Regions from separate parts of the Homo sapiens genome. Here region 1 is linked to region 2. A link means that fine-mapping ties the variant in region 2 to the expression of a gene that starts in the linked region. Tissue or cell type: whole blood. Region 2 holds a variant in brackets; the other region holds the start of a gene. All regions are shown on one strand. Distances are from middle to middle.

Region 1 (2,647 bases), 49 kb before region 2:
CTCTTCAACTCACACTCAAGCAGCTCCAGCCATGCTTATCCTCTAAAAATCCTCTGTGCTCCACCTGTTCACCCTACCTCCTCTCAACTCCTAGAAACCAGTGATTTTTTTTACTGTCTCCGTAGTGTTGCCTTTTCTGGAATGTCATATAGTTGGAATCATAGTGTGTAGCATTTTCAAATGGGCTTCTTTCTCTTAATAATATGCATTTAAGTTTCTTCCATGTGTTTTTATAGCTTGATAGCTAATTTCTTTTCAGTGCTGAATAAAATTCTATTGTATAGATGTATCACAGTTTATTTATCCATTCACCTACGAATTACATCTTGGTTGCTTCCGACTTTTGATACTTAGGAGTAAAGCTACTATAAACATCCATGTGCAGGTGTTTGTGGAGGTAAGTTTTCAAATCCTTCGGGTGAATACATAAGGGGCCCAGTGATGACTGAGTGCAAGCAATACTTTTTACTTACGTGGTCTCGGATAAATCACTTCACTTTTCTAAGCCTCAGTTTTCTCTTCTGCAAATTGTGATAAAAATAGCACCTCCTAGAGTTCCCTTGAAGATAAAAGAGGTAAGGTATTCAAGCACTTCAATGCCTGATACTCAATACATGGTAACTTTTTCTACATCCTTCAGCACACAACTGCTCATAATTCCCTCATACGAGTAGGGCTTTAACCTTTTAGCCTCGATGATTTGTTTTGCTCTTCCAAATGCCTAGAATGCCCTTCCAGGTTACCGTCTCCCTGAGCCTTTGGTTGGAATCCTCATACCAGAGGGTCAACACGTTTAGTAGAGGAATTACTGAAATAGTTGGGTTCCAAACACTAGCTCTGGCATTTACCTTCTGTGTAAATTGGCTGAAGTTACCCAACGTCTCTGTATCTCAATTTCCTCATCTATAAAATGGGGATAATAGTATCTACCTCATAGAGTTGTTGTCGGAGCCATTTTAATGGCAAAAACCGCAATTACTTTTGCACCAACCTAATAAATCCGCGCATATTCTTAAAGAAGTTAGAACAGTGCCTGGTACAAAGTAAATGCCAGATCAATGTTATTAATGTTAGGTGTCCGCCACCTATGCCACGCAGTGAGTTCCTTAGGTATAGGGACAGTCTAATCTCCGAATCCACACTGCCTAGAACAAAATAAGCATTGCAGTACATTTGAGAAAGTAAAGGTGTAGTGGAAACCGAGAGCGAAATGAGGGCGTAGGGAGAAAAGGGTGGGGAAGCTTAGAGACCGGTGAGGGAGCAGAGCTGGGGCGCCTGTGTACAGGGATAGAGCCCGGCGGCAGCAGGGCGCGGCTTCCCTTTCCCGGGGCCTGGGGCCGCAATCAGGTGGAGTCGAGAGGCCGGAGGAGGGGCAGGAGGAAGGGGTGCGGTCGCGATCCGGACCCGGAGCCAGCGCGGAGCACCTGCGCCCGCGGCTGACACCTTCGCTCGCAGTTTGTTCGCAGTTTACTCGCACACCAGTTTCCCCCACCGCGCTTTGGGTAAGTTCAGCCTCCCGGCGCGTCCCCGCGAGCCTCGCCCACAGCCGCCTGCTGACGGGTGGCTTGGGGAGGTCGCGGCGCCTCGCCCAGTTCCCCCGCGAGTGCAGCTCGACCCTGGGCAGGGCTGGCGGCTGGCGCCCGCGCCCGGCCCCAACCCAGCTGCGTGGGTGGGGAGCTGGAGGGACCTCAGTCCTGCATTTCAGAGTCGAGGAGACTGGGCCCACGGGGGGGAAAGTGCCGTGCCATGGGTGGGTCACCCAGGTCTTGGTGGGGCCCAAGCTGATACTCAGCTGTCCTCGCTCCCTGAAAGCTTCGCTTATTACAGCTAGCAGCGTAAGGGATCCACTTAGCCATCTCGGCCTCCCCAGTCCTAAAGGTCTAGGGGACAGAAAAAAGCTGGGAGTCGGAAGGTTCCTCGGGTCCCCGGCATGGCAGACGGGGCTGGCTCAGAGGTCTGCTCTGTGGACTTGGAATCGCACCCATCCTGTGAGCATCTTCTCCCCCTCACATAGGCAATTTATTTTATTTTACTTATTTTTTTTAGAAGGTAGAAAACAGTGGATTTGCATATTGAGGGTTGGAAGTTCAAGAAGTTTGCTTTTTCCTGAAAAGACTAACCGTTTTCTTTGCAACAGAATCCTATTGACTAGATATGAATCATTCCCTTGGTATTTGAGTCACCAGGTGGAAGATTTGGATACTTGATTGCAGATGACCATATATAGGAAAGTATGCAGGTGCTGGGAGGTTCTGGGTCGCTGGAGGCCCCTCTGGCTACTGATACGAAATTGCATAGCCCAGGCCGAATTCTTTCCAAGGATTTGTGTTCAGCACTGACAGCAAGACCCTGCCCTCCGGGAAAGATACATTTACTATGTTCACCAACATCATTTTTTAAAATGTAACTAATTAAAACGTTACTCCATGAAGATACCACCTTTGGTTTTCACGAAGACGGAAAACTTCAGACTGACCAGAAAGGGAATTTTTAAATGTAAAGAAAACCAGAATCTTGTTCCCAGAACTCTGTGGTTGTGTAGAGAAACCTGTTTAGAAATAACCGTAGAGGAGGAAGTAAAAGGAAATGATGTAATCCCTTTCAGGAAAGGATATATTGAAATTCTGTTTAAGTCATTTGGCCTTCG
Region 2 (2,854 bases):
CTGGGATTACAGGCTTGAGCCACCACCCCTGGCCTATATTGTTAATCTTTATATTAATTCTGCTTGCTGTTTTTCATTTGGTGTTCTTGCTAAGCCGTAATGTTTGAAAAACTTTGTTGAGATGTACAAACTCTCATTCACTGAGCTAAGGAGCATTCTTGGAAATATATCATTGAATAATGTATTACATTTGGGCTATAATGCACATTATTTTATCATGTAAAAAAAGACCTTATAATTCAATTGAAGTTCAAAATATGTTACACTTTCATTTTGTTTCAGTCTACCATTGGAATAAACCAGTTTATAAAATTTTTTATTGAGATATAACTTACATACCATAAAGTTCACCCACTCAAAGTGTGCAATTCAATGCTTTTTAATGTAGTCACAAGGTTTTGCAACCATCACCACAATCTAAGTTTAGGACGTTTTAATCAGCCGCATAAGAAACCCTGTAACTATTGACAGTCACTTTCCAATCCTCCCCACCCCCTGGCTCCTATAATCATTAATCTACTTTCTGTCTCTATAGATTTGCCTACTCTGCATATTTCATACACAAGGAATCCAATACAATGGTCAACACATAGTTTTTGACATGAAAAACGATCTGAGCTGTGTCATCTTAGAATCGTGTAATAGGAGCATACTACTTGCCAAATAAGAACAAATCCAGACTTAAGTAAGGAGAGGCTTTATTCAGTAGAACTATTTCAATAGAGAGAACATGTTGATTTCAGAAACCTGAAAGACTGGGCTGGGTGTGGTGGCTCATGCACATAATCCCATCACTTTGAGAGGCTGAGGCAGGAGGATCCCTTTAGGCCAGGAGTTCAAGACCAGCCTGGGCAACATAGTGAGAGCAGCATTCTGAGACTGTTCCAATGGCAATGATAGAACTGGTTAATTTTTTTTCCATTTTATATTGTTAATCTATATATTAAAGATTCTACAAAAAAATAAAAAATTAGCTGGGTAGGTTGGTGGACGCCTGTAGTCCCAGCTACTCAAGGGGCTAAGGTGGGAGGAGTGCTTGAACCCAGGAGGTCGAGGCTCCAGTGAGCTATGTTGGTGCCACTACACCAGAGCCTGAGTGACAAAAGTGAGATCCCATCTCTAAAAGATGGGGAAAAATGTGCAAAAGTTTCAAAATCCAACAGAAAAGTCTTAGCAGCAACTTTTAATGTTGGGCAAGCACAAGGGCATGATCACTGGGGATTGACAGGAAACACGTCTG[G/T]CAGTGGACAGCTGGACTCTCAAGATAAGCTGCAACAGAGGCATGTTCTGCATTTTAGGGCTTGCCCAGGACTGGGGACAAGCCAGAGTTCAGGAACCTGTGGGAGGAGAGAGGCCTGATGGAAGTGTGGTCAAGACAATGAAGAGGGTAGGGAATGGGCAATTATGAATTCTTGGTCATGGTAATTAACTCTAACGGACTCCCAAGCTTCCCTGCCTATGGTGCTGGGTGATAAAGCCTCCTTCCCACTGAAACATACTGCCACCTTCCAAAACTTTCAGATATGAAGAACAAATCTAGTAGGTAAGAATATAAAGCAGAAGGCAAGCTAAAGGGAAGAAAGGATCATGAAAAGAAGGGATTGTACAAATCTAGTTGGCAGGGAGGTGACTGGAAAGCTTAATAGGATGAAAGTGGGCATCATTATTTTTTATCAAGCTATTATGGCTTACTTAATGTGAGTTTTACTAGTTTAAATGGTTAGTTTCTTGTCAGAGAACTTCATGTAACAGTTTGATTCTAAATGCTGTGTTTGGGTTTCTAATACATTTCTCCTTCTATTTCCCTTAAATCACTCAAAAAGCCAAAAGTCTTTTAGCTTTCCTTAAGACAGTCTATAAGCCACGATGAGAAAGTCACTTATTCTTGTTCTGAGCTCCAAAATTCATTATAAAATCCATTCACTTTTGGTTGGATTCCTACCTAGAGATCAGATTTAAGATTATAAAAATAATTGTGTTGCTGTAAATAGGTTTCTTCCCTACAGACTTTTCTATTCCTATTTTCTTTTTATTTAAAAGATAATTTACTCTTGCGTTTTTGTCAGTTTCCTTTTTCTTGTTTTATTTCTGCTTTACTTGTTATTTCAAAATAAAGAATTGAAGGATTGTATTTTTTTTTTAAGGCAACTGAATTTAGATGACAGATACTTGTTCTAATGGAGTCACTCTAACCAGCCTATAAATTCTAATCCAGTCATTTAAAAGAAAATTCTTTCCATGGGAAAAATTGCTTTTAAATGGAACTCCAGTGCCCCTGCGTGCCTAATGAGTTATTTGGAGCAACATCGCTGCAGTTGTCAGGCCCAGGTTGTTCATCAGTAGCCCGAGATGCTAGTAGCTGAGCAGTGTCGCACCCTAGGGAGTTATCAGGGAAAGCGTAGGTGTTCGGGGTGTCTGGGATCCAGAGATGAGTCAGTCGCTGTGGGAGTTTCTTTGGCAGGTAATTTTATTTTCCCCATGGCTGGAGATAATTACTGTGCTAAAGTTCTGTGCAAATATGGTATTAAAAGGCTATGAAAATCAGGGTAAGCAGCCTTTCTTTCATTCCAAGTAAAAGCCAGTTGTGGGGAGGGGATAGAGTGGTATGACAGTCCAAAGAATCTTTTTAAAAAACATATTACTTACTATAGATTAACCCAATTTCTATTCCGTGAAGCTGAACATTATTTGCTTTTTGTTACAGTTAATTGTGTGAGGAACACGCCGGCCTTTTTAGCCGAAAGACTGCATCGAGCCTTGAAGGTTGGTCTGGAAAGTTCATGTGCATTCTTAGCGTCCCTTAATTCCCTTGGGAAAGTATGCAAATAGTAGAACAAATATTTAAAAATTAGTT

The links. PIP is the estimated chance that this variant, and not a neighbour inherited with it, causes the effect.
Region 1: ANXA3 starts here. The variant in region 2 is fine-mapped to the expression of ANXA3 in whole blood (INTERVAL, PIP 0.97).

Annotation. Positions count from the first base shown.
Region 1 is chr4:78,550,358-78,553,004 of GRCh38, forward strand. It overlaps ANXA3 (annexin A3), which reads left to right and starts at 1,413. Exons shown (of 13, transcript NM_005139.3): 1 at 1,413-1,502. RefSeq lists enhancers at 1,778-2,529, 1,833-2,647.
Region 2 is chr4:78,598,806-78,601,659 of GRCh38, forward strand. ANXA3 (annexin A3) reads left to right here. Exons shown (of 13, transcript NM_005139.3): 11 at 2,705-2,763. Among named protein-coding and RNA genes, the nearest start is that of LINC01094, 46 kb to the right of the region's middle. The variant G/T (reference allele first, on the strand shown) is at 1,241.